2 separate regions of the Homo sapiens genome follow, and region 2 is linked to region 1. Evidence: fine-mapped QTL for protein levels in blood plasma. A gene starts in region 1. The other region holds a variant in brackets. All regions are shown on one strand. Distances are between the middles of the regions.

Region 1 (16,656 bases):
CAAAAGAGTTTCTTTCTTTTAGAGTAAAGCTTTGATTTTTGTTAATTCTATTTTCCCCAGAATAATTCTTTGAGTTGCTATCAGGCATTTATAAAAAGGCCCACAGAATTTTAGAATGTTCATTAAGTCTTTTGACAAATATTCACTAGAACTTACTCTATACCTGATGCTGCACTTGGTCTGGAATCTCTTCAGAAGACTGGTACTGATAAGTAAACACTATGACATTGGACAGGCAGAATTACCAGACACTGTAACTGATAAGCAGACACTATGATAATACAGATACTGGAAATAAGTAGACTGGTACCAAAGACAGAGGAGCAGAGAAATAGGAGAGTGGTTGGGGACAGTGGAGCAGTGAAGTGGCAAGGGACAGAGACAAACACAGTTGGGGGCAAGTTTGCCCAGTAAAAGAAGCCTTCAAAGTTCTGGATTTCTCTGCTAATTCCAAACAGAATTGTTCCATGACCCATCTCTCCCCTTCTGCTGATATTTATACCTACTTCTGTAAAACTAGGATGACAGTTCTTAACCTGACAGTATTACACAAAAACTAAAGAGATGCTATATATCAAGTGTAGCATAGAACCTGGCACAACGTATATAATTGAAAGGCAGGGGAAGTCATAGTTATTACTACCATGATGATAAAAGTACCTGTAATCTGATAGAAAGACAGGCTACATCCTAGTCACGAAACATCACTTTCAGTAAATATTGGAGCCTACATTAGAAATTGTCAGGATTGAACTTCTCCAATTAGACACTGAGAGGAGCCTCAGAAAGCACATATCAGAGCACAAAAGGCAATACCAAGCCTCTCCTCCTTCAAAGATCCTTCCTTTCTTGACAATTCCAAATCATACTAACTTTCCTTCCTTGTGACATGTTGATATCACCATTACACATTTCACCTAACACATACTGTCACTGAGTAGCCTCATGGGGCTACAATGCAAAGTTTTTGAACACTGCACCGTTTACTGCTCATCCTCCTGCCACCATGGTGGGGATATGAACAGTCTCTTTAAATAGTGTTAAGTTGCACACATTCTGCTCTCTTCCTGCCTGCATCTGGGTAAGAATTCTGCTGTCTTCTCCATGTCCAGGTTTTAAGTCTGCTAGTCTGTCTACAAGGTTTTAACAGTGAAGCAGAAATGACCTGCAGAACAGCATCTCTGGATAGAAAGACCTAGCACAGGACAGAGCGAGAATGCCTCCAAAAATACAAATTCCTCAGGTTTTTTTGGAAAAATACAGGCAGGAGAGGCTTCCCCTAAGGCCTCTGAGAAGATCTAGATTATCTTGTGAGATGCATTTATGTCCTGAGAGCAATTCCAGGTCACACAGGAATTGCATGAGCTACATTAGCATCACAGTAAATTTGACGTGAGTTTATGAATATCAATTATAATATTTTTAAACAAGAGATCTAATGCTATCTCCGTGTCTATTAAAATGTAATAAATATTCAAGACACTTATAATGTACACATAATATTTATAGACTGTGATTAAATTATATGTTCCAAAAGCAAAATGATATATTTCAGAGGCTCTGTAATCTAGCAATTTGGTTTTCAACTCCAGCTTTGTAATTTACCAACTGTGTGATACTTGTCTCCATGAGTCTCAGTTTACACAGAGTAGTCATGATAAAGTAATAATAAATAACCTTTATCAAGGACTTGCAATGTGCAGGCATTGTGCTTAGCACTATGCGTGCATTAATTATTTTAATTATCAAAACAATCCTATAAAATGGGTTCAAATAATGAGCTTCTCACCACGATCACCATTTTACGTATAAGGAAACTTAGGTTTAGAGAAGGTAAGTAATTCCCCTAAGGACACAAGTTAATGTACATATATTATCTTATTTAATTCTCACAACAACAGTTCTAGGGAGGTGTGTTTTAGTTGTGAAAGCTGAGTATTTCGGAGTTGAGACGACTTGAGTAAAGGTAGTAGTGGGGTCAGTGGGGCTGCATTTTGAGAATTGTTCTGACTCTAAACTTCATTAACTTTTCAATACTTCAAGATCCCTCAAAGAAACACACACACACACACACACACACACACACACACGATATCTTAACTCTGCAGAAATCTCTTATTGATTGAGAAGATTGTGTCCTGCAGGTTCCCAGACAGAAGCAAATCCCCTCCTGGGAGGAGGGAGCTTTTGCCATCCTTACAAGAGCAGCCAACAACCATTTTTGCAGAGCTCAAGTTCCCCCAGACAATTGATTCCTAGCACTTAGGAGAGTGACCTAGATGGAAAGTTGGCAAGAATCCTAGATCTGTCATAACCCTATTCTCCCACACTCAGCCTTCTTGCCCTCAGAAGTCATCCTTAGGTGGATTTGATATCTTTTTTAGGTCAGCACTCACTATGGCTTTATCCAGGAACAAAAATAACATCAGCATTTCATATCACCCACAGCACTGTGGAATCAGGCTGGCTGGCTCAGGTCCTCCGTCTGCCATCTGCTAGCCATGCAAGGGCAACCTCCTCATGTGTGAAACACCTGGATTCCAATACTGTTGTGAAGATCAAACAATATTAGCTTTTGAATAACTCATGGGCATAGACTGTATGTTATTCATCTCCATCTTCCTGGGGCCTGGGAAAGTTTGTGCTAATAAGCATTTGGTAGTGAATGAATAAACAAATGAACATATAAATGAGGAATACTCTATAAATCATAAATCACCACGTAGATCAGGGTTAGGGCCATAGAACCTATACTTATGTAAAGTTATGGATTTCTCTCCTAATTCCAAACAGAATTGCTCCATGACCCATCTCTCCCCTTCTACTGATATTTATATCTACTTTTGTAAAAAGAGGATGACAGTTCCTAACCTGACAGCAATGTTTTTATTCAGTTTTTAATTGCTTCAGTCTCATGGCCTTTATTCCTATTCTGTGAGGTAAGGAGGTTGCTCTAGATTGTGCCCAAGACCCCCTCCAGTGCTGGAATTCCACGATTCTGTTGTACTATATTTGTGCTGCATCCTTATATTTATTTTTTTAAATTTTATTTTGAAGTAATTTCAGATTTACAGAATGCTTGTAAAGACAGCACACAAAATTCATGTATACTCTTCACCCAGGTTCCTCTAATGTTAATTTTCATAACTCTAGAGTGTCTAGGAATGCTAAGAAATGCTAAGAAATTAACCTTGGTATAACACCAAACTGATTTCATCAGTTCTTCCACAAATGTCAAACCAGGATAGGTTACTGTGCAGCATTTAGCCCTTATGGCTTTTGAAATAAAGAGTTTACTTTCAATTTTTGAAATTGATCGAGACCTTAAGATTATTGAGAGAATGAAAACCTGATAAAAACTTCATTCTGCGGCGGCAAAGTGTGTCAGCCATCCTCTGTGCATGTTTTAGCGATCCTTAAGAAATCTTGAAAGACCATCCTGCATGTTGGTAAATGCAATAAATCAAAATGAGATGTGAACAATACAGTTGGAACCCCTACTATAGACACTGGAATATTGGGAATCAAAGACATAAGCAAAATGGTTCCCCTGTGGGAAAACCTGCAGGCCTCCTTGCGGAGGGCCGTGGGGACACTGGCTGGGGTTTGGACTGCTGATTTGGTCTTTCACTGCATATGTATTGAGGGCCTGTTATGTACCAGCACTTGTCTAGGCACTGGGGATACAGTGGTGAATGAGACAAAGCCCCTGTGTTCATGAAGCTTATATTTTAGTGAGGGAGACAAAACAAGAAACAAATGCCAATCAGGTAGTGACAAGGGCATTGTAGGAAACAAAGCAGGCTGAGGGAGTGGAGACAGCGAGATGTGTGGGGAGAGGAGGTGGTCTTGGAAAGCATCCCCGAGGAAGTGGGCCCTGTGAGTACTCAATACTCAGAACCATGACTCAGGACGACTGCCCTGAACTACACTGAGGCTTGGTCTTGCTTAGATTAGGGAAATAGTCCGACCATGGAAAACGGAGTTCCCACCCAACCTCTCCACCTTCAAATGCACCTCGATGCTGCCATAGCCCTGTTGCATAGATTCTTTCTCCTCTTCTCCAGTCTGTGGCTTGTCATTGAATTCATAAACTCAGCTCTAACACAAACTGCCACTCCAAAACTTCTCCTTGAGATTCTTTGAAGCCCGGGGTAAAAAGTAGATACCAATAAATGGACCACTTTTCCTCTGAACTCAGACTCCGTGGAAAGCTGGCTTGCCCAACATCAGCCACATCAATTTCAGATTCACTAAACTTTTACTACCTGCCCATGATGTGCTAGGCATTTGTTTTAGACTTCAATTTGCTTTAGAGTTTTCTTATACTTTATCCTACAAGTATCACAGTAACACAAGTAGCAGCTTGTGAGGTGGGAGTCACACCTTCCTTTTTCTTCCTTTGCTTTTCTTTCCTTTCCATTCCTTTCCTTTCCTTTCCTTTCCTTTCCTTTCCTTTCTCTTTCCCTTCCTTTCTTCCTTCCTTCTTTCCTTCCTTCCTTCAATCCTTCCTTCCTCCCTCCCTCCCTTCCTTCTCTCTCTCTCTTTCTTTCTTTCTTCTCTTTCTTTTTTGCCAGAATGAGATACCGAATGTCACAGATACAAGCAGGAGCTGTGAATCCAGGTTTCCTGCATCCAAGCCCAGGGCTCCTTCCGCTACACAGTAGCTCAATCTCACTAGAAAATTTCACCTTCATCTTATTCCACACAGGACCCAGTGCCCTACAGCCTGTGCTGACCCAAGTTAGAGCAGATTCCCTGAGAACAACCTAGGCATGCCCTGGGATGGTGAAATACCACTCATGGGGACCCAGGTAAGGCCTCCTGGTAGTTGTTAGTGCCAGAGACCATCATCCAAACTTCAGAAGCCGGCACTTGAAGAGGTGATTTTCAACAGAGAAACTGTGATCAATGGCAGCACCACAGACCACTCAGCTATGATGGCAACACCTTTTAAAGATGGCACTTTGATTAGAAAGATTTTCTTTTTAGCAGATCCTATGTGCTATTGTCAAGCCTATATTCGAGACTCCTCCCCTCTTTTAAAATAAACCTGAAAGCTAATTTGGTTATACAAGGCAGCCCAACTGCACAAAACCATCAACAACTGTTCCCTGAGAACAGACTAAGCCTGTAGCCAACGTCAGATGTAATAGCTCCCCAGCCCATAAGCAATTTCTTTCCTTACAGATTTTTCACTGAGACTGGAGGCTGAACTCAAAGGCATAATCATTTTTAAAAGTGCTTCCAGGGTAATTCGTGTCAGTCCTGGGGCAGCTGGATCTTATTGTAAAGAAGTTGTTTTGCATGTTTGTGAGTTTTCAACCCTGTGATTAGTAGACGGGGAGAAGGAGGCAACAGAGGGTGGAAGGAGGAAAGGAAACCAAAATTACTAGACACTGCACACCCAAAAATGCCGAGTAAGAGGAGGTGGAAGAGGTATCTCGCCTATCAGCTTTTCCCTTGACTCCCATGGGCCAAATAAAATCATGTTATTTCACCTTCTTCCTCTTTTGCTTTTCTTCAAATAGTTTGGGAGTTCATGACAAACCAGTCACAGTTGGCAAGTTTAAAACTAAACATCATTTGGCTTCTCTCTCTAGCAGGGATGAACACAAAGATCAACAGAATGCAAGAAAAAGCCAAGAGTGTTTTCAGGGGTGAGCCACAGCTCTGTGGAGCCTTCAGAGATCATGCAGCCTGACTGCTCACTTTCCAAATGAGGCGGGAGACTGGAGGGCTGAGCGTCTGGGCCAAGGTCACACCACAAGTCATTAGAACCAGGATCCAGACCCAGGCCTCCTGATTCAGAGCCTAGGGCTCTTCCTCTATGGCTTGGGGAACCATGGCTGAGTGCTGCTTGACTGTGGCACAAAAAACGGCTGTTAGAAAGGAGTCGCACCCATGCGATAGTGCTCCTGAGAGGTGAGGACTGGAGGGACAGTTGTAATTAGGTCATTGCCATGCTCCACATTAGGCAGTGGGCCTGGCTGTGAGGAGTCATGGAGACAACAATCAAGGTGAGCCTGGTCTCTGAATCAGCATCTGTCAGAAGGGGTTTTGAATAACTAAATCTGCTCACCAGAGGCCATGGGGGTGGATGAGAATGGCCCACAAAGGCTGTCCAAGCAGCCTCCACAGCCCCGGCACCCTCACCTGCTGCTGCCTGTGTGAGTCCTCTCCCCACCCCTTCTACAGTCCGGCTGAGCCCCTCCACAGTCCTGGTAACCAAGTAGGGATCATCCCTCTGGGGCTGGGCTTCTGCTGTGGTCTTGCAGGTCCCCACCCTCTCCAGGAGGAAGAACTGCCCTGAATCTGGTCCTGTGGCACTGGCTCTGCTGACAGAGTCAGCTGTCGGGTGGGAGCCCACTCTGGGTGGAGGCAGCAGCCTCTCAGGAGCCCGTCACTGTGGCAAAGTACAAACTCTTTGAAGCAAAGACTCTGTGGATCCAAACCCCAGCTTTCTAGCCGAGGAAATACTGGATCTCTAGACTGCAGTTTGTCTACCTATAAATGGGATATACCCTTGTTTTGAGCATTACACGAGATGATCCACATAAAGCACTTAGCATGGAGCCTGCTCAGGGTAAGCACTCAATAAATGGTAGCTGTTGTCATTACTTAAAGGCCCGCTCTCTTTCCTGGCTCCCCCACCCATCGGTGTTTCTTCCTCTTGGATTTCCCATCATCACCTCTCTACTGGTTGTGTCCCCCAGGGTTCTATGCTTTTTCTTTTTTCTATTTTCTTTTTTTTTTTTTTTTGAGGCAGAGTCTTGCTCTGCCACCCAGGAGGGAATACAGTGGTGCGAGCATGGCTCACTGCAGCCTCGACTCCCTGGGCTCAAGTGATCCTCCTACCTTAGCCTCCTGAGTAGCTGGGACCACAGGCTGCATGCAACTACACCGGGCTAATTTTTTTTTTTCTGTAGAGATAGGGTCTGGCTGTGTTCCCTAGGCTGGTCTCGAACTCTTGATCTCAAGTGATCCTCCCTCCCCAGCCTCCCAAAGTGTTTGGGATTACAGGCGTGAGCCACCACACCTGGCCAGATTTTGTGCTTGACCCCTCCAATCCCCACTACACTAAGTACTTGTTGCCACACATCTGGGTTGCTCTACAGATAGCACATGCAGCAGCCCTCCAGGTGGGCTTCCTCCTCCCTGGACTGCCTCCTCCGTTCTCTCCTCCAAGCCTCCTAGAGTGCTGGCTCCATCTAGGCTGTTGTAAATAATCAGCCTAGCAGTCAGTGCCTACTAGGATGAGCTCCTGACCAAGCACCTGGGCTGAGACCCAGCTGAGACAATCACACCCCACAAAAAAGTACAAGCTCGAAAAAATTCCATGCCACTGCTTAAGGCAGAATGCAGTCAGGGGAAGACAGCACCTCTCTCCAAAACCCTTTAGTAAACTATTTTCCAGCAATAAAACCCACTTTAAATTCAGGCAGAGAGAAGGACCTCAGTACTCATAATTGAGAGAGCACATTTAATCAAGGCAGTAGACAGCTATTTAATTCCACTTTCTTTTGCCTAAATGTCCTTGTCCCCTCTTTTCCATTCACTTGCTCTAAATCAATAGTTCTCAAACCCTCCGTGCTGAGAGATCAATTGTTTATTTTTCTTGTTCCCAAACTACTGTGGGCCAGTACTTTTGTAAAATGGTAAAAATAAATTTCTAAAAAAGAAAAATGCCATTCCGATGGCACAGAAAGTTTTAATTTCTATAAAGTTTATTACTTTCAGTTTCTGTACATATCTTTTGGTAGTCTGGTAAGCAAGCTTCTCGCCGACCTACACCAGCCCCTGGCCCAAACTGAGAGTAGGTAGAACAGCTTCTGGAAGGAACAGAGCCACAGAGGAGTCTGTCTCCCACAGACACTCCCCATCCCAGGTTTTTGTCCTGTCATGTAGTCCGCTCAGCAGCAGCCCTGCTCCACCCAGAGCATGCAGTGGTGAGGTTTGGGGTGGGATTTGCCCAGGCTTTGGTTACTGATATTCCTTGAGAGTCTAGCAGCCCCCAGGAGGAGGGATATGCAGAGATGTTCCCAGCCCCAGTGCAGTGCAGGGACTGGCCCTTACCATTCCATGCCAGCCCTGTTGATCTCCTCCCACCAGCACTCCGTGGGTTCCCCGAGGCTCTGTGGCGTGGGCATGCAGGCGTAGTTCCATTGTCTGTCAGAACCTTCCTTCTTGCTGAAGATGCTCCTCACGGCCACTATCACCTGCCCCTGGGGACACTGGTAGCTGAAGCCTTGCCGGTTCAAATTCACCCACCCATCATCGCTGTAGTCATGATACTGCTGGTATGGGTATCCATAATCGCCATACTGGCCCCAGGCCATGGTGACTAGGGGCAGAAGTACCCAGAGAAGACTGAGGTCCATGCTGCCTGGGATTTTGGCAAACAATGTCACTCTAAGATTGCTGGTCTGACCGTTTTATATAGCTGCCGCTGACATGTGGCTTCCAGATGTGGGTGAGAAGGATCCAACTGCAGTGTGTCATTGCTTAAGCAAAACTTTTCCATGCTGAGATGTCAGCCATAAGGACATTCAGCTTGTTTTAAGGTGGAATTCTAGGAATATACCAGCAGCATGTAAGTCTAAGAAGCTCCCTGGAGAAAGAACAACTTTGTATCTAGATTATAAAAGCCAACTGCTGCTCTACCCTGTAGAAATATTCACTTGAAAAACACTGATTAGTAGCATATTTGTCCCTCACCTTTCAGCACCTCACCCCTTTCTGTCCTACCCTACCCGCTACTAGCAAACCCCTGTATTTGTTCTCCAAACTAGCCTTCCGGGCCACACAAATACCCAGACAGTGATTTCAAAATACCGAAATCATAGACTGAAGTAACAGAGCCATCTAGGATTTCTGTAAGGCTGAATGCCTGTTTTTTTTTTTAAGTTGTCAATCCAACACTTTTTAACCCTTGAGTATAAGCGCGGGTATACCAGTTTGCAGGGCTACTCTGAGAACTCATAAGTTGCATAAGGAAGTACTATGGGCCCATGGGGAGATAAGTTGGATATGATTTCTACACTTAAGCATTCTACCATGCTGCTGAAATTGGACCCAGTCAAGTCTAGAAAGTGTGCTCTGCTCTCAAAATGTAATGGGTTTAATCTAAATAAACCCCCTATTTATCCTTCAGTATTTTTGCCCTCACATTGAATTTTCTTTTCATTGAGTTATAATTTACATATAATTAATTCACCTTTTAAAATACATAATGTACAGTAACATAGCCAGCACCCTAATCAAGACTTAGAACAGTTCCATCAATCCAAAACATCCCCTTATATCCCTTTGCAGTCAAATCTTCCCAAACACCCAGCCATTGGTAACCACTGATTTACTTTCTGTCTCTATGGTTTTGCCTTTTCCAGAATGTCAAGTAAATGGAATCATACCACACGTAGCCTTTCATGTCCATCTTTCACTTAGCATAATGCTTTTAAGGTTCATCCATTTTAAAATTCAACATCTCATTGTATGTGTTAGTATTTTGTTTCTTGTTATTGTTGAGTAATATTCCATAGCATGGATGTACCACAGATTGTTTATACATTTACTAGTTGAAAGACATTTGGGTTGTTTCCAGTTTTTGAAAATTCATTACTTTTTATGTAATGAATTTTATATTCATTATATTTTATATAATGAATTACATAAATGTAATTATAAAGTTGATATAAACATCTATGTATAGGTTTTTGTGTGAACAAATTTTTATTTCATTTGGGTCAATACCTAGGAGTGAGATTGCTGGTTCACAAGGTAATGTATGTTTAACTTTAAAAGAAACTACTGAGGCCGGGTGTGGTGGCTCATGCTTGTAATCCCAGCACTTTAGGAGGCCGAGGCGGGCGGATCACGAGGTCAGGAGATCGAGACCATCCTGGCTAACATGGTGAAACCCCGCCTCTACTAAAAATACAAAAAATTAGCCAGGCTTAGTGGCGGGCGCCTGTAGTCCCAGCTACTCGGGAGGCTGAGACAGGAGAATGGCGTGAACCCGAGAAGCGGAGCTTGCAGTGAGCCGAGATTGTGCCACTGCACTCCAGCCTGGGCTACAGAGCGAGACTCCGTCTCAAAAAAACAAAAAAAAGAAAGCAAGAAACTACCTAGCTGATTTCCAAAGTGGTGATACCATTGCCCACCACTACCAGAAAATTGCCATTAAAAAATTTTAGCTATTCAAATAGGTTTGTAGTGATATTTCAGTGTGGTTGTGATTTTCATTTCTCTAATGATCCATGATTTTGAGCATCTTTTCATGTGCTCATTACCCATTCCATGCATCCGTTGATGATTTGGCTTTTCAAATTTTTTGAAACCTTTGGGCATCTCTTAAGCACATAGTATTTCCCATTTCTCATCAGTATTGTTCTTAAAGTTTCTTAGAATTGTGATCATAGACCAATTCTATCTACAGCCTCTGTGAAGTTTGTTAAAATGTAGACAGTGGCTCTTCTCCAGGCCTGCTAAATCATAACCTCACAAGGGGTGCTCAGGTATTTATATTTTAAAAAATTTTCCAGGTGATTCTTATTCACATCAATTGCTAAGAGTCACCTTCCTAAAGGAATGTGGAGCCAGAGAAAAATCACACTATTAATCCCACCATCTGCCTAGCCTGTGGCACATTTACCAGACGGTATTCAGTCTAGATCAAACACCAAGATAGTCTTGAAAGGGAAAGACAGTCATACATGAGAATAAAGCAACAAGTAACTCGTGTGTGTGTGTGTGTGTGTGTGTGTTTGTGTGTGTGTTGGGCATGCAGTTTTCTTTGATGATCATGGTTACTGAAGCGAGGGGGAGAGGATCTGGGCTGAACAGCTATGTGAGGCTTAGTTTTGTTTTTAGCACCATCTTCTCCCACCACTTCCATCCGTAAGTAACTGCCCAGTGCTGGCATCGGAATTCTTCCTAGCTTAGAAGGATCTCTCTGATTCATGATATGCTGAAGCAATCATTCTCCACCTTATCAGCATTTAAGGATTACCTGGAAAGCTTTTGGAAACCTCCAGAGTCTAAGCAATTTCTGGACCAATCAGATCAGAAGCTTCTGAGCAGGGTCCTGACAATGACGTCCTTTGAAACCTTCCCTATAGGCTTCTCACCGGAAGCCAGGGTTGAGAACCTCTATGCTAGAGGGTTTTTTTTTTTTTTTAATTTTTTCAGTTTATCATCCTGATGCTCATGAGTTGTATCTTGCATTCTGGACATGATATGAGCTATTTTAAACCTTAAAGAGCTCTAAGAGACAAAGCAGATTATCATAAACACTCATCTTTATTATACATTTGTTTTCCAACAATTTCCAGGGCCTCTGCCTGATCTCCACTCTCCGCAGATTTCTTTCAACTACAGCTAGAACTACCTCAGCTGGATTCCCTTTAATGTGCAAAAATAAATATCTTCATGCTATGGTCCAGTTTTAATATAGATTTCTGTTACTTAAAGCTGAAAGCAACCTAACTCATCCAGTGTCTCAGGAGATTCCAGAAACTGCTGATGCCTTTGAGAGAGATTCTGGTGGCCGCATAGAGAATGATTTCCATACGCAGACATTGAGAACATAAGATTAATGCATTTACAGTTGACCATGTGTTTTCAACTAGGTTACTATGTTATCTTCCTCATAACTTTATATGTTAGTGAGGCATTATTGGAATTAGTTTCTCACAGATGGGGAAACTGTGGTGAGAGAACATTTTGGGCCAAATTTCTAGAACTGGAAGGATATGACCCCATGTCTTCTGATTCCCATTCTGCAATGCCTTCCATCATTTCATCAAAGTTACAGTTACTAATTATAACATTTATGAATAATTGTCAAATAATGCACTTATAAAGTATGTATATTAACATACACATATAACTAATTTGCGCTACGCATTTCTGCTGTTATTTGAAAAGTCTACTCAATAGACCCTGGGGACTTTAAAGAACTAAATGTTCAATAAGTAGTTTTTGGGGTGTTGCTCTAAAACCAACAGCATCAGCGTCACCTGGGAACTTGTTAGAAATGCAAATCCTCCGGCCCCTCTCAGACCTACTGAATCAGACACTGTAGGAGTAGAGCCCGGCAATGTGTGTTTGAACAAGCCCTTTAGGTAACTTGATACTCACTAAAGTGAGAATTACCGTATAGCAGATAATGCAGAACACTCTACCCAAATTCCAGGTGTCACTTCTCGAGAAGTTATGTAGTGATACTGAAGCCTAGATAACTCAGTTCACTAATTTTGATTCTGGCGCCCACACAATTCACCACTGGGCTATCTTACCTCCTAGTAGATAATGGACTTGAGATATTTTGGAGATTCTGACAAAGAGCATTCAAAAGTCTCCATGATTCTTCTTTTTCTTCTACCTCTTATTCTTCTTTTCTCTCTCCTTATCCTCCTCCTTCTTCGGCTGTATTGAGATATAATTAACATACCATACAATTCACCACTTAAGGTATATAATTCAATATATCCCTTAAATTAGTATGTTCACAGAGTTTATGCAACCACCACCGCAAGCAATTTTAGAATATTTTAACCACCCAAGAAACCCTGAACACATCAGTAGTCGCTCTCCATTTCCCTTCATCCTTTAGCCCTAGGCAACAATCAATCTACTTTGTGTCTCTATGGATTTGTCTGTTCTGGATATTTCGTATGAATAGAATCATTCAATATGTGGTCTTTCATGAATAGGTTCTTTCATTTAGCATAGGTTTTATGTTAGCGGTTCATAAGGTTCATCCATTTTGCAGCATGTATCACTAGTTCATTTCTTTATAATGCCAGATAATACTCTACAGTATACATCTACCATATATTATTTATCCATTTACAAGTTGATGGACATTTGAGTTGTTTCCACTTTTTGGCTATTATGAACAGTGTTGCTACAAACATGTATGTAGAAGTATATGTGTGGACATATGTTTTCATTTCTCTCAGGTATATACTCAGGAGTGGAATTGCTGGGTTATACGGTAATTTTGTGTTTAATCTTTTAATGACCTGCCAAACTGTTTTCCAAAGCAATCGTGCCATTTTACATTCTTACCAGCAGCGTATGAGAGCTCCAATTTCTTCTCCACATCCTCACCAACGCTTATTAAGTCTGGGTTCTTCTGAAAGGTGTAGGAACTCATAGCCACTCTGGTGACACTTTTTGCGACCTGGATCCACTCCTGTCTGGCAGCTTTCTCAAACATATAATCCCTTTTTGAGAGATTCTGAATATAATACTTTGCCCGATTTTAATTGAGAGCACCTAGAATGGCCCTAGAATCAACTCATTCCTAAGTTACTTTTACACTTTCTGGATTGGGGTAGCTGCTATTGTATATTGGGAGGGAATGATGTAGACTTACAGAGGTCACCCTGGAGCAGACCTGATCCACTGGAGAATTCCAGATGTGACGTGCTGGCCCCGAGGAGGGCTGCTCAGACAGGAGAAGGCAAGGCTCATGCTAGTGCCTGGGTGAAGCTGGTAGCCCCAGATGAATGGATGCTTAACCCAAAATATTGACTGTGAGTTATTGGAGGATTCCATTTTGCCTGCTGTCTTTTTTCCCTTTTAACTCCTGTGTATAATCAGGACTTGGCTGCAGCTCTAGGTGGCCAGAGTACTATCACAAACTTCCCAGCAAGTGTATGCTGAGCCATCCGTGGCTTTCCTCCAAAATGAGTCTGTGCCAGTTTCACGGTTTAGCTGAGAGAGGCATTCAATAGCCTCAGTACACCCAGGCTGTCCTCACCTTCAGCAAACTTGCCACCCTTGCATGACCCATTGCTTTTTAAGATCATTTGTGGAACCCACTGTCATATCATTTGGGGTTAGCCCCGAGGGCCACCAATAAGGTTAAAAATGCTCATACTGGAAGCAGCAGGAGAAAGAGTGACAATCCAAGTTGAGGAAATAGAGAAGATTGGGAGGAGTAGAATAAGGTGCACCTACTGTGTGCTAAATACTGTACTATGTGCTTTACATATGATAGACCAATTGACCTTCCAGCAGTTCTAAGAAAATTAGGTTCAGAGATCACTGGTAGCTCACCCCAATTTTCACAGCTAGTACAGAAAGGTGACTTGAATTTGTTAGTAACTATACTACCCCAAGTGCCAAATGGTCACAGCAGGGCCTCAGAGCAGTGGCAGATGGTTGTGAGAAGAGCAGAGACTCCTAAAATCCAAATATCTAAGTTAAAGTTCTGGTTCTGCAAGTAATCAAAATGACCTTTTGATTTGGGTCAGATAGTTTTTTGTTGTGGAGGCTGGCTGCCCTGTGTATTATAGGATGTTGGACAGCATCCCTGGCCTCTATCCACTAGATGCCAGTAGCATCTTCTCTTCCACCACTGTGACAATCAAAAATGTTCCAGACATTGCTAAATGTCTCCTGGAGGGAAAAATCATCTCTGGTTGAGAACCACTGAATCAGACAAAACCCATAACCTTTGTTTTATCATCTGTAAAATGGAGGATAATCACAACACCAGCCACTTACCACGAGATTATTGTGACAGTCATATCAAATAGTGGTCTTGCAAAGACTTTGTCAAGTGTAAAGCTTGAAACAAATGTACGTTGTTAGTCTGACCTCAGGGTAACACTAGAAGCTGGAGTTGAGGGAACAATCATGCATATTAGTGTAATGAACAGCCCCAGGACTCCGCAGGGCAGAAGAGTGTTCTTGTGCAGATGATGACTGGAGGGGTTTGGGAATGAGTAAAGCTGGGGGAATATGGCTCCACCACTCTCTGGAGTTCCATTAATATGTGGATGAATGTCAATCGCAGAGGTTCCTGAGAGTGAGTTTGCAGGGAGAGGTGTCAGGATAACAGGGCTGAGCACTAAAGGCAGAGTGAGGGTAGAGAATTCAGGAGGCTTGGGAACAGTAGGCAGATGGAGGAGCTATCGTGGTGGAGAAGAAGCTTGGGAACTTGCGAGCTTGGGAACCAGGACTGTGTCTTGGGGTGAGAGTAGGGATGGGGATGGGGATGGGGTGCTGCTAAGCCAAGTTAGCTCTGAGACACTCACAGAAGGAAGCTTCAGGGCCCAAGTGCCTAATTAGTGTTCTGGGGTCTGTGAGGATGAATGAAGCACAGAGATGTATGTGTAGGTGCTGGAAATATTGCTTTAGTAAATGTATTATATGCTCATAAGTGGAGGAACAGAGTTCAGGATACTGGTTACAACCTCTGAGCTCATGACTCGCTAGAGACCATGGTTAAAAAAAAGCGCGGGAGGAGGTTCATTGGAGAGATTTGGTTACAAACGGGGGAAAAGAAAGAAAACAATTTAATCAGAAAGTGCTTAAGTGATGTCATTTTAAGCCAAATTTTCTAATTTGAAATTGGGTTTTTAAGTGGGTAAACCTAAAGTTTATAAAATAAATAACAGCCCCTTTCATTTGTGTAGCATTTGGCACGATGTATATAAACCACACAATCCAGCACTCAATAAATATTTATTCTTTTCCATGTGCAGGGATTTAACAGATCTCAGTTCATCTTTGCATTGGTGATGGTAGTAAAGTTGGCTTTCTTATTTCCATTTTATCAGTTTGGAAATAGAGGCTTTGAGAGGTACAGTGATGTCCAAAGTTACAGAAATATTGGGTGACAGGGCTTGGGCATAAGCCAAAGTTCCCTAGTTTGAGCCCTGCCAGTTCTCTTGGAGGACACGGCATTGAGGGATTTGGTGACACATCCTTTAGGGAAGCAAGGTGGCCAATTCTAGAGCACTTTGCCAGTTCACACAGTTTGTCCAAGCCTTTCCCTCCTACAATCCTGAAGGCAGGTGGTGGGGGCAGGGCTTTAGCAGGAGGAGCAGCCTCCCTGAAAATAACATCCTCCCATACAGGACATCTCTGCTGGTGCCGTCCTCCAGTGCGTTTTCTGTGTGCTGCTTCCTCTGATCAAGCTCGGCTTGCTCTTTAACCAAGATTCACGCATTCTTGCTCCCATTCCTGAAGCTACAGATTGGCACCTCTTTTCGGCATTGTTCAATCACGGTACATCAACTTCAGATAATGGACTTGGTCACCTAAGAAGCATACTGTCTCTCCCAGCTCTAAAAACACACACCCACCCCAAAGTATTGATACATGTGAGGTCCACAGACCACCTGCATCACAGCCATGGAGGCATGTTAGAGGAAGATTCCTGAGTTTTTGACAGCCTTGCTTCAGTGGAATCCTGGAGGTGGGGTCCCGGAAGCTGCCATTTTTTTTTAGACGGAGTCTTGCTCTGTCACCAGGCTGGAGTGCAGTGGCGTGATCTCGGCTCACTGCAACCTCCGCCTCCCAGTTCAGGCAATTCTCCTGCCTCAGCCTCCCGAGTAGCTGGGACTACAGGCGCGCCACCATGCCCAGCTAATTCTTGCATTTTTAGTAGAGATGAGGTTTCACCATGTTGGCCAGGATGGTCTTCATCTCTTGACCTCATGATCTGCCTGCCTTGGCCTCCCAAAGTGCTGGGATTACAGGCATGAGCCACTGCGCCCAGGCGGAATCTGCCTTTTTAACGAGCTTTCCCACATGACTTTTATGCATCCCGAAGTGTAAAACCACAGGCTAAGGTGCATAAGGATGTTTATGATTTTGTAAGCTTCCCAAGTATGAGGCAGAACCAGGCAGGGC
Region 2 (16,656 bases), 19 kb before region 1:
TGGGGAAAGTCAATGAATCTGTTTTCTGATCTGTAGAAGAATAAAGTCTACCTTATAGGTTTGTCATTGGAACTAATAAAAATGAGTGATGAGTGTGCTATACTAGTACATGGTAGGTGTTGAATCACTAAGAACTATTTTGTTTCTTCTTCCTCTTCCTCCTTTCCTTTCCTTCTCTTCCAATATTGAGTAAATCCTGAGCCTTCATATGAGTAGGTCCATGGTAGTCCATCCTGGAATAAAGTCTAGAATCCCCCAGTTCTCATAAGGGCTTTGCCACTGGAACCTTCAGGACCAAAACAGTCCTTTTACCATGAAATAGCTCCTCCAAAGTCTTTATCCACACCCCAGGGACGCTTGGAAAACAACTAGTTTGTGAGTGTCAATAATTTCATCTGATTTGGGTTTACCAGATCACTGTTTATTAATGCTAGAAAGATCTTCTCCTCTGCAGACTGATGGTGATCTTTCTCCAAGATTGTCATTAAATCATGAAAAGATTGATTTATAAACTGTAAGGGCTCCTAGGAGGATCTCAGTGCACAGATGGAGAAAGATCAATGGTTAGCTCATTCTCTTGGTTCATAATCATTCCTTTTACCCATTATTCACTAACCCTTGTTCTCTGATTTGACTTTTCCTAAGACGTAATTATGCTCTATCAGGATGCCAAGTCCAACCCAAAGTGAGGTACCTGTGTTTTTGCTTAACGAGTTCATGAAGGGAAATAAGGTCCTGCAAATCCAGAAACTTATTTTGTGCTTCTAAAGAGATCCAGAAGCAGGACTTTACCTTTCAGGTAAATGTCTTTTTTTTTTTTTTTTTGAGACCAAGTCTCACTCTGTCACCCAGGCTGTTGCACACTGGTGCAATCTCGGCTCACTGCAACTTCCGCCTCCTGGGTTCAAGTGATTCTCCTGCCTCAGTGTCCCAGGTAGCTGGGATTACAGGTGTGTGCCACCACACCCAGCTAATTTTTGTATTTTTAATAGGGACGGGGTTTCACCATGTTGGCCAGGCTGGTCTGGAACTCCTGACCTTAAGTGATCCACCCGCCTCAGCCTCCCAAAGTGCCGGGATTACATGTATGAGCCACTGCGCCCAGCATGGTAAATGTCTTATAAGTAGAACTAATAGGGCCTTACTTGGATCCCACTGATTTATGATCCATGAGAATTCTAACAAGGACTGTATTAAAGTTAACCCAAGGAAAGAGAGGTTTGTTGAGAACATCAATAATGCAAATTAGAATAAGAGGTTGCATGGGGGTGGGAGGGGGTGTGTGTTTTCCTTACTTCAGGGAACAAAAAATATTTTCTAAAACTTTTGAAGCATCTCTGGATACAATGTGTAAAAATTAATTACCAAGTTGTGTGTTTTTTCTTTTTTTTGCTAAGGCAGAATCTACATACAGCAACACTGCATTAAGCTAAATCCAATTGCCAAAAGTATTTGGAAATTATGAAGCTAGATTTTTATTTTTTAAGTTTTTACTGACCACTCTGATCTGTCTTCAGATACTTGGATAAATATCACGGAATAAAGTGGGAAAGAAAAGCTTACCTTTAAAAACATCAAGAAGTTTTAAGCTTCAAAGAAGGAAAATGTTATTTCATGCTTTCTTTAATTAGGATTCTCTGTTGCTTCATTTTTGGTAGTGACCAGACATAAGCCCCCTGTCTAACTGGACAGTTTGTCCGAGAAGCCTCTCCATGAGGTACTGATGTCCAGTGAATTTCTAGAATGTCCTAGAGAAGGTGAGGTGCATGACCATTGGTACTTTTTCTTCTTGGTCCCAGACAGGTTTTGTTTTGTGTGACTTTTGGTTGTTGTTATTTTGTCTTGTTTTTGTTATAACACCATGGGATTGAGTTTAGACTGTCCTAGAGAAACCTGGGTAAAGGAGGAGAGGGAAGGAGGTTGGATATCGATGGAAATCTCTCCTACTTTATGAAATAAAAATACCAAGGGAGAAATGACCCAAATCACTGGTAGAAAGTGAACCTCCCAAACACCATCCATAGGAAGAACTATTGAGTCAATGTGGCCCAGGATGCTGTGTTCTGTATTTTCAAACCAGATATATGTGGCTGCATTTAGCGCTTGATGACACTGCATGTGCACGCGCACACACACACACGCGCACAAAGTGTCCTAATAAGTGAAAGCCCAGTAATAGCTCCTTAGAGAGAAAAAAGAATTTAAACGTTCAGAACTAGACACTGAGACAGGGCATAGGGACTTTTCAGGAAATTAAAAGAGGCTACAAGGAAGCAGAATGATCAGGGTTTCCTAAGCTGTGACACTGGGCTTTGCGAGTGTAGGTCGGGGAAGAGTTCGGTGTGGTTGCAGCTTCCTTGTGAATTCCTTGTGAATTACTAGGTCACTTTAAGCAGTTTTTTGGAAAAACACACTTCATACTGAGCATTGCCATACATTCCTAGACCAATTAAAACAATCAAACAAACCTTCAGCTTGGCAAGATGAAGAAGAGCGCAGGTCAGGAAGATGCCTTTATTGAAATGAGTCTACTTTTCAAACATTTCTATGGGAAGCCTTATTTTCTCCTTTCCCCTAAAGTAAAGTGTTTGAATAGATTTATTCAATTTTAGCTATTACTTAATTTTTAATAAAAACTACTGCTGTGCAGGAGAATGGCGTGAACCCGGGAGGCGGAGCTTGCAGTGAGCTGAGATCGCGCCACTGCACTCCAGCCCGGGCGACAGAGCGAGACTCCGTCTCAAACAACAACAACAACAAAAAAAGCAAAACTACTGGTGTGTGTGTGGGGTGTGTGTGTGTGTGTGCATGCGCACTTTCAGATGAATGACTCTTGTGGTACAGTTTCTCACTTCACAGCACTTTTTCTGCTGTCAAGATGAAAGACAGAGAGTTGTTCCAAAGCTAAGAAAAAACTTGATAACATAAAGCCACTTGCACAACTCTTGTGTCAGCTGAAGCTGATGGTAAAAAAATTAATAATATTTTACTTATGAGCTGAGGGAAATCAGTTCGAACTGAAGACAATTTTAAGATTGATATAGGATTTTTCTCATCTAAGATTCTTGAAGCTCTAAAATTATTAACAGATCCAACTGGACTCAATGAATGTTTGCTATGATACAATATCATAGACTGAGCTGCTGCTGATAGATGTCTCGGCTCCGTTGCCACAAGAACAGACATATTGCAGAGCTGAGTCCAGGTATACGCTCTCACATCCATTTTAGAAAGGGAAATAGAGATACAATCTAGTTATATACAGTGGCCAATTTTATTCATTGTCAGAGGTTGGGTTGAGAACTTATTAGGTTTTTAATAGTTAAAGTAAAGATTTTCAATCTATTCCTTGACATAAAGTGACTCAGCGTAAGGTTTTGTGAAAACCCACCTCTACGAGACCTTATTCGGAGCTAGACACTTTTCTTCTATGAAAGTCAAACTTCATAGCACTGAGATGTGTTTGTTACAGCTGTTTCACTTGGGGAAATTAGGGCAACTGGATTAGTCGGTGTCACCTGGAAGCTCCTCTTTCAGGACTTTCCCTCCAATTGATGTGCACATGAACAGATACAGCTTCATCTCATGGTCAGGAAACATCATATCCCCAACCTTGGCCCACTTTGTGGGGACACCAGAAAAGCACACACCACAGACTCCCTACCATAAAAACTGGAAAAAAACCCCAGCATTTACATATGAACAGATCAGAACGGGTACCTGAGGAAGCCATACTTCAGCTTTTTAAAAAATAAGAATAAAATTAGAATGTCTTCCAAATGATCTTTTATAGCCCAGCTTATGCTCAAACAACATTTTAGAGAAGCTTCTGTTGGTCATTCAATATTGAATTCTGTTTTTCTTCTATTTCTCTACCACTCAATTAGCACATTACTTTAAATATCCCATTCAAATGTCCTGTGACATGTCAGCTGATACAGTTTGGCTGTGTCTCACCCAAATCTCATTTTGAATTCTCAGATGTTGTGAGAGGGATCCAGTGGGAGGTAATTGAACCTTTGGGCAGGTCTTTCCTGTGTTGTTCTCATACTAGTGAATAAGTCACATGAGAGCTGATGGTTTTAAAAATGAGAGTTTCCCTGCACAAGCTCTCTTTCTGCCTGCTGCCATCCACATAAGATGTGGCTTGCTCCTCCTTGCCTTCCACCATGATTGTGAGGCTTCCTCAGCCATGGAACTGTGAGTTCTCCATTAAACCTCTTTCTTTTGTAAATTGCCCAGTCTCGGGTATGTCTTTATCAGCAACATGAAAATGGACTAATACATCAGCACTATATATTTAGCAAGATAATAGAATACTGTATAACATCATGATGGCCAATATAGTGAGCTCTTTGAGGGATCACTGGTGCATGGAATCAAATATGCTTTTATGATCTGGTTCAGAGGTGGGTTTGGAGGAGAAACTCAACATTTGCGGATTTGGTGTGTTGAGGTTGGCTTACGTTTTATATATTCAGCTAAAAAGATGTCCCTTTCTGACAGTCAAATCATTGAGAAGTTTGTTAAATAAAGCCAGTCTGTTCATGATCAATCCTCTTGCATAATGCTTTTCCAAGTAAGCTATAAGGAATGAACATATTTCAGATTAATTTAGTTTGTCTTTATTAGGAGCTACATCAGACCCCCTTTGAATTAGTTTTGTAAAGACAGAAAAAATAAACCCCAAATGGAGTTATGTGTAAAGGAAAACAGCCACAGAGAACAATCCCCAGGCTTCTTCCCACAAGAGCTGGGGATTGGCCAAGCGGGACCTCTGGTAGTCACCCAAGTGCCCTTCTCTGCACAGAAAATCTGAACCCAGGGGCTCTGAGGTGTGTGAAATAAAAACAAATGTCCATGTCTGTCCTTTTATGGCATTTTGGGACTTTACATTTCAAACATTTCAGACATGTATCACAACACGAGGGAATAACAGTTCCAGGGATATCTGTAGCTTAAATGAGTAGAGGAAAGTCCCTGAACACTTTCCAAATTGCTCTCTTGGAACTGAGTTTCTAACTCACTGTCCAAGCCCAGGGCTAGTCAGTAAGCACATTCACTTTGACTCGTGTTGATTTTCATTAGCCACATTATGTGGTGGTCACCCTGGGCCTGCATGTCAGTGGGGGCTACTTGACCTTCAACAGCTCCCCTCCAATTAAAATAGTTTTATTCTCTGTTTTCTACCAGATGCCTACTGTGCTATTATGTAATATTTCACCTGTAGAAGTCTTATTCCTCATCTAGAGACAGCTCAGTACTATGCAAAGAGCATGGGATTTGGAGGCAGATAGACTGGTTGAGTCAAGTTTGGAACTTTGAAGGGAGCCACAACTTCTATAGCTCAGTTCCCTCATCTGTATGATAGTATCATAATTTTTGTGTGTGAGGATTAAATGCAGTAACACAGGAACACGTGGTAAGTGTCAATAAATAAATATTATTATTATCATCATTATCATTAGTAGGGTCTCACCCAAAGCCTATGAATTGTTATTATTTCATATCCATTCACATTCATTGACTGCTTAAGTGAATTAATAAATAGAAGTAAGAATGATTGCCTCTAGAATCTATTATAGTAGAGGGAAGCAGACTAGATAGAATAAAGCATCAGATTTGGTTTGTAACTGAGAGGTTTACTTTGTTCTAAGTAGCTGGCCTTGGGTTAACCAATACTTAGCCAGACACATCTATGATATTTCTGCTTTTGAAGTTTGAACATAAGGAGAGAGGTATCACCTATAATGCAGGCACCAAATACAGTCGATATGGTTTGGCTCTGTGTCCCCAACCAAATGTCACCTTGAATTGTGGTTTCCATAATCCCCACATGTCATGGAAGAGACCCAGTGGGAAGTAATTTAATCAAGAGGACGGTCACTCTCATGCTGTTCTCATGATCGTGAGTGAGTTCTCACGAGATCTGATGGTTTTATAAGGGGCTTTTCCCCCTTTTGCTTGGCATTTTTTCCTGCCATCATGTGAAGGACATGTTTGCTTCTCCTTCTGCCATGGTTGTAAGTTTCCTGAGGCCTCCCCAGCCCTGTGGAACTGTGAGTCAATTAAACTGTTTCCTTTGTTAAGTTACCCAGTCTCGGGTATGTCTTTATTAGCAGTGTGAGAATGGACTAATACAACAGTCATCAGTGGCATCTGCAGGGGATTGATTCCAGGACCCCCATGGATACCAAAATTTTCAGAAACTCAAGTCCTTGATCTAAAATGGTGTAGCATTTGCACATAACCTATGAATATCCTCCTGTTTACTTTAAATCACCTCTAGATTACGTATAATACCTAAGATAATGCAAATGCTATGTGAGTAGTTATTATACTATATGGTTTTGTATTTGTATCATTTTTTATTGTTGTATTGTTATTTTTATTTTTATTGTTTTTTTCTGAATATTTTTGATTCAAAGTTGGTTGAATTCTTGGATAGGGAACCCCAGATATGGAGTGCCAATTGTACATGTCTACATTTTAAATATGGCACAATAATTATGGAAACCATTCCAGCAGATGAAAGGGATGATAGATTTTGCTCAAGTTCAGAGAGGCTGCTGTCTGCACAATGAGTGCTATGTACATCATGCAATGGAAGGCAATGGTTTTAGTAGGGCGCAGAGCATCTAAACCCAATATAAGTTCCTTTAAATTGAGACATCTAGTCCAATTTCCTCAAAACTTAAGTATGTCCATCTCTATAGTAATAGCTTCCAGCTTGCGCAGAGGACCAGTATGGAAGCTGCTCTTCATTTTTATTTTTTTATTTTACTTTAAGTTCTAGGGTACATGTGCACAATGTGCAGTTTGTTACATATGTATACATGCGCCAGGTTGGTGTGCTGCACCTGTTAACTAACATTAGGAGATATACCTAATGGAAGCTGCTCTTCTTACCAGGCCTCTGGGAGCTGAATTGCAGGAGGCTGTCTGGGCACAGGTGGCATATGACAGGCACAGCAATGCAGAGGCCTGTGAGATTGTTCATGTCCCTAAAACAGCATTACAGGAGTGAACATGCAAACACTCCCTATCTTGTATTAACATCTGAACAAAGAGGCTAAGAATTAAAGATTAGCTTTGACTGGGTGCTTTGGGGTGGGAGAGATAAGAATGTTCTAATCAACTGATGTTAACTAGAGCTATACAGGAATTTAAAAAAAGCACTCTCTGGCTTATGACTTGCACACAGAGAGTGGGGAAGTAGGCAGTGGAGAATGCAAAGTCTGAGAGACAGAATATCAGGGTTGAAGAGAAAAGTAAAGGTTACCTAAATGGATGCATTATTTTACAGTCAAAAGATATTATCCAATGAACCTAATGAAAGGCCATGGGTCTGGAGAAGAGCCATTTGGAAAAGAAAATGATTCACAACCATCAGATCCTGGGACACAGAGTCTCCGCCTGGACAGTAGACAGTCTGGTGTGCAGCCTGCAGCTGCTGAGCTGTTTGGAGAAGAGAGATTATGACAAACAATGTCTAAAGGGTTGTGGCAACTTCAGTGACATGTGTTTGTGGTTTGCAGACCACTAGACTAAGAATTAGAATTTTCATATCTAAATAAATATCTATAAAATTCACTATTCATCCAATCCAGTGGAGACCATTTCCTAATGGCATGTCCACATCTCTCAGGAATTTGCTTTCTTGCCAGAGTCCAGTGAGGCTGTAATATCCAAAGAGAAACCGCACAAGCTGAAACGAGAGCAGCACCTTGGTTCCCACCAAACAAATAAATCTCATACTCATTTGGGAGTTGGTTGGATGATTTGTTTTTTCCAGCCCAGAGTGATGATATTTCTGAATCCCTAAGTGCTCACAAACGCAGGCGCTAGATATTCACTTAGCTAGTTCATACGGTGTCAGGCTGCGTGCTGAAGAATGCCTTTCAAAGAGGGAAGGGGAAAAATGTCGTTCCCACCCACATGGGTCCAGTTCCCTGGGAGGTAATTCAAGCTAATTAAAGTCATGTAAGGGAAGGTTTCAGATAAGAGGGTTATCAGCATTTCACTGTGGGAAGGTGCAGGAAAAAGAGTTCTCACTTCACTCTGTAAGGCTGTTAAAAGGATCAAATAAAATAATGTACATGAAAGAAGTCTTTGTCAACTATAAAACATCATCACATCAATGTCAGGTTTCACCATTGTTACTGTTCCTAGGGGCTTGCAACATTCAGTTATTCATCTGACACATTTATTAAGAGTCTATTTTGTGCTGGGTAATATCCTGGAGATGTTGAAAAAATAAGACCTAATTTATGCCCTGGAGGCATTTAGAAAGACATATAATACAACATCATGACTCAGGCAATTTAAAGATGCCACTAAAATGTCTAGACACACCAGCGGGATAGTGAGTCATACACTGTGTACCATGGTGCACACTTGAATCTTGTTCTGCTGCTTCTCCAATGTTTTCTTTGAAAAAATACCATTTTATTTGGTGACCGTGATAGCTCTCAGCTCTAACACCATGCCTTCAGAAATAGAACCA[G/GC]CAGGTGGAACCACACCTTAGTGGGACTTGTTTCAAAGTTGACTTGTCATGCCTTTTGGATTAATTCTCTGTACTTTCCCCACCTTTTGGCTCCACAGACCAACAGCAACATGTCTGGATGGTAGGATGGGGTAAGGAAGGGTAAAGGGTATGGGGGTTGGGGTGGGTTCAGAGTGGCAAAGTCATTGCAGATCAAGGCTTTGGGTAAACTTTGTGAGCAGAGACATGAATATCTCTGGCAACTCAAAATTGCTCATCTTTATCTATCAATCTTTAACATTGAGACTTTGTTCCTACATATATGTCTATATGATCATTACATTTTTAGCATCTTAGCTGGTGAATTGCATCTAAGGGAGCTTGAGAAGCCTTTCTAAAGTATGTGAGAGGAACGATACCTAGCATTCTTGGGGAAGCAGAAGTATCCTGGAACCAGTCTCCAGGTGACCACTGGAAATCTGGGGCATCATTAAAACAACGGTGGAACTGGAAACACAAAGACCTGTCTTTTTCAGGTCTCAGCATTCAAATAAACAGACAGGATAAGCTTCAAGAAGCAATGCTCAGAGTGTTAACACAGATCCCACAGATCCACGGAATATGGGAATTCCAGGAAAATTTAGATGTTTATCCCTTTCTCTCACACTTACCTTCATCCACCCCCTATTTCTTCTGTTTGACAACTTTGCTTTTTTTTTTCTTCTTCTTCTTTTTTTTTGAGTCAGAGTCTTGCTCTGTCGCCCAGGCTGGAGTGCAGTGGCGTGATCTCGGCTCACTGCGAGCTCCACCTCCTGGGTTCATGCCATTCTCCTGCCTCAGCCTCCTGAGTAGCAGGGACTACAGGTGCCTGCCACCAAGCCTGGCTAATTTTTTTTTTTTTTTGTATTTTTAGTAGAGAACGGGGTTTCATCATGTTAGCCAGCATGGTCTCGATCTCCTGACCTTGTGATCTGCCCACTTCGGCCTCCCAAAGTGCTGGGATTACAAGTGTGAGCCACCATGCCCGGCCTTGACAAATTTTCTAAAACCAGTGAGCCTTAGCTCCTTGCCTGCCTGGTCACCCAAAGCCTTGAGGCCCAAGCCCACTATCTGTTGTTGTTCTGTTTGGGCAGGGGCCAGCCAACCATGATGGCATGGCCACAGACACAGCAGGCTCTCCCACTCATCTCTGCAGAGACCTCGAGCCTTGCTGTGATGAGGAATGTTGCTGCCTCAGCTTACTCCTCTCTGCCTGGGGAAGAATGAGTTAGTACATCTAACAACAGACTGTCCAACTGGTCACATGTCTTGTTCCTCTGCATAACCAACCCCGCTCTCAAGTTCTGCTTCCTGCAATGACCTGACACCTGCTAGGTTGTTCCTGGGCAGAGTTTGCCTTTGAATGTCCTGTTAGTTGGTGAGGAGGCTGGGTCTCTCCTGCATCTGGGAGGGTGAAGGGGACTCTGTTTCAAGACAGGTCAGCTCTGTGTGATCATAGACAGTGGCAAGGCCAGAAATATATTATCTTATTTAATGCTCATAACAAAAAGTAGCCTGAAGTCATTCCTTCATCCAAACAAATGTTATGTGCCTGTCATTATTTATAGGGCTTGGCATATGTCAGCACAAAGATCTCTGCTTGTGTAGAGCTTATATTCTGGGCAGAAGTGGAGGGATGGGGGAGAGAACAAAAAATTTTATGTAAGAGAATTATATTTTCTGGGCCACTTCACATTATATACACCCTCCACAATTATTAATGTGGATATTTGTTCAACAGTTGTTAAGAAGACACTATGTTCCAAGCACTATACTGGGCATTGAAAATACAAAGATCAGTGAGTGGCCCCATATCCTCCAGACACTGGAAGTCCAGGTAGAGAGGAGCAACTGTACACAGGTGGTAAAATGCATAAAGTGCTGTGACAGAGGCATCTACGAAGGGCAGAGAGACAGAGCCACCAACATCCAGGCCTCCAGCTGCCCCTAGGCTGTCCATGTTCCCCTTCCTCCCCACTGCAGCCCGTGCAGGGCTACCTCCTCACCTCCTCACTCTTTCCCCTGCTCCTGAACCCACTCCTCCTGGCCACCCAGCATACCCCAGCCCTGATGTGTTCCTTTGGAGTCTGATTCAGGGAAAGTTATACTAATGTAGTAAATAAATTCACTGACTGAGTATTAGGTTTTGCTTGCTCTTTCAGGTAATTTACATACATTTTAACTGGCTTTTAATGCTTTGCAACAAAGGGAGGCTGGTTTCCTTGTGGGAAGTGCCATTCTGTTAATAGACCAGGAATGAGAGATTTGTGGAGGCCAAGCTCCTACCTACTCTCCCCTTTCATTAGGGCGCACTCGTCTTTGGAACTTCCTTCATCCTCTCAAAACAGTTCTGGCATCTGGATCATCTTTTCCAAAAGTGTCTTTGGAATTAAGACATTTTTAGGGTTCAACACAACCTGAAAGATCTTCTAGTCCTTGGAATTTCAACTTATGATCCAGGGGTTCTTGGCAGTGTGTTCATGAATGGCCTTCAGGGAGTTTAAGGACTCCCGAAATTCTCTGCAAACTATTGTATTAACATGCTAAGTGCATTTTCCCCCCTGAAGACAAGGTCTATAGTTTTCATCAGAGTCTTAAAGATCTTGGAGACTCAAAAAAGGTGGTCATCATTTTAGGTGATGTGCTTGAGCCTGCAGAGTTATGAGAGGGAGGGGAGAAGGGGAAAGGGGAAAGAAGGGAGGGAAGTGAGGAAAGGCCAACACAGAGACTGAAACTCAAGTTTCTTTTTGCCCAAACTGGTGCTCCTTCTACCTCCTCCACTGCAAGAGATCTTTAGGTCTTTGGTTCAGGACCTATCCCAGTGGCATCGTAATCCTTTGCCAGGCCTGTTCACCCACTGTAGAGGAGTAAAAGCTGCTTTATGGAAGCGATTTTGAAGAACTAGAGGAGGTTTCTGCTCCATCATACAGTGACAGGTGACTTTGAGCTCTGAATTTACTATCGGTCCTTACTTTAAAAAGAAAAACGTTAAGCTTTTGGGGCTTTGTATCCCTAGAGATACTGTGTGCCACTGGGCATCTGTGGAGTAAGCTGTCTGATTGCAGAGAATAAGCATGACCTGTGAAGCTGTCCTTGCAAGCATCAAACTGTAGAGAGATCAATCACTTGAGGGAGCCAACCTTCACATGTTGACACTTCTGGATCCCCTTGCCCAAGGCAGAAATGCCTGGCTCATTTTCAGATTAAAAAAACCTGGGCCGGTTGTGTTATCAACACCCAGTGTAAGTCATCAGGGCAAATGACAATATACACATTCTCCTAGTCAATTGGAAGGCTAGGTCAGGAGATATTCGGCATGAGCCCAGGGATAGGGAAAGAAACAAAACATCAGAGGCTGGAATTCCAAATGGATCCAGAAAACAGCACAATCTTTTTTTTTAATTTTTTAATTTTTTAATATTTTATTTTTTCTGTCTATAACTATGTACTAGACTCTGACCCATGAGAGGATTGGTTTCTCCCAGAGAAAGACTACAGGAAACTAGGTTCCCAAATAGGCCCTGCAGCCTTGGATATGATGAGAAGTTACCAGAAGTTGGGGAGAAGGAGAACAGCACTGGGATGGGAGTCATTAGGCCTAAGCTTAAGACTTGGCATTCCCACAGAGTAGGTGGGTGACTTTGGGCCAGTCAGTGCCGGCTCTATGGTTCTGTTTCCTTTTCTGCCAAAAGAAGGATGTGGGGGGTTGGATAACCTGAAAGATCCCTCTTGGCGGGAACATCCTCCTAAGTCATTCATTCATTCTTGTCTATATGCCAGCGCTGCCTTCCAGGCTTGTGTGTGACCCTCAAGCTTACCTGAAGCTAGAGCACTTCCTAGGTGCCTCTCCCACCCCAGGAGTCATGAGGGTTTGGTCGGCTGCCAGACTCACCAGCAGGAATATGGGCACCTCTTGCTGTAGCGACAACAGTAAAACTGCCACTCCCGATCCAGCACTGACTCGAAGTAGCGGCTCTGGAATCCTGCCACCAGCCCATTGTTGGAGCACGTCTGGTACCTGAAGAGAAGACAACCCCAGGAACCTAAGAACAGTGACACATACACAGACCCCTTCCCAAGACCCCACTGCCACAGTTACACACTCTTTCTCTGACCTAGATTCTTAACAATTTATTCCATTTTATGCAAATAATAGTCTTTATTATATTTGTAGAAATAACATAGCCCCTCCATTAAAATTTAAGTGACTCAGAATTTTCTAACTGAACAAAATTTAGGGAACACTGCCCCTGTCATACCTCTTTCAATATATATTGTTAGATGGAAGCCTGCATAAATGGGTGGATCTAGAATTTTACATCTAGAATTTTACAAATTCGAGATTGTATTATTCATGCCATTTAAAATAAAAGGTATTATAATTCATTTTACTGGAATTTAAAATAAAAAGAAGACAAAGAGAAGCACAACGTATTGATGAATTTCAAATAAACATTTCTTCTGCCTAAGAGAAGAGCCCTGGAAATTGAGCACAAGGATGATCATTCGTTCTGCCCCTGCACAGCATGCAAAGCCCAGATGGGCATGGTGAATGTGCCCAGGGCAGCCCAGTAGGAAAGCTGGGACCACAACCCAGATTCTTCCTACTTATCCAGGAATCTTTCTACCACCCACAAGACCATAAGCTCTACACAGCCATGGCATGTTTTTCTCAGAATTCTATTCCTGGTGGCCACCAAGAATCCTGGCTGTGGAGGCAGTCCTTACAGAGTTGCAACAGGCCAACTGAATGCCTCAAACCCCCTCTAAAGATCCCTTTCCTGTCCTAGCTGCTTAGTCCTAATTCTTCAAATATATAACCGCTCCACTCCAGTCCACAGACAAGAAATAATTTTTGCTCTTTCATTCTACCTGTGCTGCTGCTGGTCTTCACAGCACCTTTTGAACTAAACATTGACTTAGAATAGTACAATCATTTCTTCCTTTGTTCCATCTCTAGTATGATTTTCTCCCATTCCTGGGCCCAATTCCTATGGCGTCTTCAGGCTTCCCACTTTTTGCTGTGATGATAACACTATTTTCTACCTGACCACAGTGGATTTCCACTGTTCTTGCTACTTATCCAGGAATCTTTCCACCACCCACAAGACCATAAGCTCTACACAGTCAGGGCATTTCCACTGTTCTTGCTACTTATCCAGGATCTAGAATTTTACATCTAGAATTTTACAAATTCAAGATTGTATTATGCATGTCATTTAAAATAAAAGATATTATAATTCATTTTACTGGAATTTAAAATAAAAAGAAGACAAAGAGAAGCACAATGTATTGACGAATTTCAAATAAACATTTCTTCTGCTTAACAGCAGAGCCCTGGAAATTGAGCACAAGGATGATCATTTGTTCTGCCCCCACACAGCATGCAAAGCCCAGATGGGTATGGTGAGCCATGGCCCTTTGATGAAATCCAGTGGATTTCCACCTTATAGCATGAGCTCTTTCACAAACCCTTCCAAAATAGTTCTTCAGTTACCTCTCCTTCTTTGCATTTCCCACCATCCCAGCCATTGGTCTATCCCCTCTTATGAGTGGGCAGAGCCAGAGCAGGCAGTTGTCTATGTGCATGGCCAGACAGCTGCTGGAATGCAACCTTGTATTTCATGGGAAGATAAGTTTTCAGAAAATATAATGCATAAAGTAAGTACCGTGTGCTGACTGGTGAGAGAGGCCTTGTTGACACACAAATTGTAACATTATCAACAAGTGGATTTCATTTATTCTTTTCCATTGCTGAAAATGAACTTGCAGATCTAACAAAATTAGATATTAAATATATTACTTGTCTGTCATCAGAAATCATCCGTCCTTTTAAATTTATTATTTATTACTTGTTATTCATTTATTCACCTAATGTATATAATTCAAATATGCATTTATTTATTTATTTATTTATTCATTCATTTATTAAACATCTCATACTCTACTACTGTTCTGTATCAATCACTTTGCTATTATGTTGTGAGAAGAATTGAGAGATGGGCTCGGTATTCGGTCAACCATGTAAATTAGCTTGAATTCCCTGTTCCCAGGACTTGTAAGAAGTTCTGGCAGACTAGAAAACTCAGCTATAGGGGCTCAGTAATGCAGGTTAAGGTGTAAATTGAGACCTATGGCTCTTTGATGATCTAGCTTTTTTTTTTTGGTATGTGCAACTGTGTAGTTTATTATACATGTATCTAGGTTTTACAATTTTCTTTTATTTTACTTTAAGTTCCGGGATACAAGTACAGAATGTACAGGTTTATTACATAGGTATATGTGTGCCATTGTGGTTTGCTGCACCTATCAACCTGTCATCTAGGTTTTAAGGCCCGCATGCATTAGCTATTTGTCCTAATGCTCTCCCTCTCCTCACACTCTACCCCCGACTGGTCCCAGTGTGTGTTGTTCCCCTCCCTGTGTCAATGTGTTCTCATTGTTCAACTTCCACTTATGAGTGAGAGCATTCACTGTTTGGTTTTCTGTTCCTGTGTTAGTTTGCTGAGGATGATGGCTTCTAGCTTCATCCATGTCCCTGCAAAGGACATGATCTCATTCATTTTTATGGCTACATAGTATTCCATGGTGTATATGTACCACATTTGCTTTATCCAGTCTATCACGGATGGGCATTTGGGTTGGTTCCATGTCTTTGTTATTGCAAATAGTGCTGCAGTAAACATACCTGTGCATGTGTCTTTACAGTAGAATAATTTATAGTCCTTTGGGTATATACCCATTAATGGGATTGTTGGGTCAAATGGTATTTCTTGTTCTAGATCCTTGAGGAATCACCACATTGCCTTCTACAATGGTTGAACTAATTTACATTCCGACCAACAGTGTAAAAGAATTCCTATTTCTTCACAGCCTCGCCAGCATCTGTTGGTTCTTGGCTTTTTAATAAACACCATTTTGACTGGCATGAGATGGTATCTTATTGTGGTTTTGATTTGCATTTCTCTAATGATCAGTGAGGTTGAGCTTTTTTTCATATGTTTGTTGGCCACATAAATGTCTTCTTTTGAGAAGTGTCTGGTCATATACTTTGTCCACTTTTTGATGGGATTGTTTCTTCTTTTCTTGTAAATTTGTTTAATTTCCTTGTAGATTCTGGATGTTAGACCTTTGTCAGATGGGTAGTTTGCAAAAATATTCTCCCATTCAGTAGGTTGCCTGTTCACTCTGATGATAGTTCCTTTTGGTATGCACATGCTCTTTAGTTCAATTAGATCCCATTTGTCAATTTTAGCTTTTGTTGCAATTGCTTTTGGTGTTTTTTATTATGAAGTCTTTGTCCATGCCTGTGTCCTGAATGGTGTTGTCTAGGTTTTCTTCTGGGGTTTTTATGGTTTTGGGTTTTTACCTTTAAGTCTTTAATTAATCTTGAGTTAATTTTTGTATAAGGTGTAAGGAAGGGGTCCAGTTTCAGTTTTCTGCATATGACTGATGTAGCCTTCTTCATTCTACCATTGCTCGCATCTCATCAGGAGTATACTAATCACTTTGTAAATGCCTGGCATACTTCAGCAAGCTATATGAGTGGAATGGACTAGGCTCATGATATGGTGGAAAGGTAGCTTTAGGGGCTGATCTACCAGGGTGTTCTATTCTATCCTAATTCTTAGTAAAGTAGGTGAGAGGTAATTTCAATATGAAGCTCTAAGAATCATAAGCAAAACTCATATGTGTCCAAAAAGAGAAGGTTGCCATAAGCTAGTGCTCTCTGTGACCTGTTCTCCTACCATCACTAAAATGCTGCCTTCCTCTAAAACAAAGCCCTTTCAGAACTGAGCTGGGCTGTGGTTTCCACGGAGTTGTTGTTCCATTGTTTTGGCTTGTCTTCTGTACTCAGACCCCTATAGGGGACAGAGCTCCCATGGGGGTAAGTTCCCCTAAGTAAAAATAAATGTAGGAAGATAAGCCGAACTGTTTCATGGAGTACCAGTTCTGAAGGCAATCCAAGTTCCACAAATTCCCCGCCAGCTGTTGGCCAGGCTGCTGGCCCCAGTGCCTGTACGGGAAGTGTGTGTCACTTTCTCACACACCACCTCAGATAACTCTGCCCTGTGAAGATTATTTGGACCCTACAGACTCAGAGCCTAAGAACATATAGTGAAAGTTAGATA

What was found. PIP is the posterior inclusion probability: the model's chance that the variant is causal. Sun 2018 read protein levels with aptamers (SomaScan).
Region 2: its variant is fine-mapped to the plasma level of the DPT protein (Sun 2018, PIP 0.95).

Annotation. Positions count from the first base shown.
Region 1 is chr1:168,720,794-168,737,449 of GRCh38, forward strand. It overlaps DPT (dermatopontin), which reads right to left and starts at 8,413. Exons shown (of 4, transcript NM_001937.5): 1 at 8,077-8,413. The coding sequence starts at 8,381.
Region 2 is chr1:168,701,805-168,718,460 of GRCh38, forward strand. It overlaps DPT (dermatopontin), which reads right to left. Exons shown (of 4, transcript NM_001937.5): 2 at 12,417-12,542. Among named protein-coding and RNA genes, the nearest start is that of DPT, 19 kb to the right of the region's middle. The variant G/GC (reference allele first, on the strand shown) is at 8,507.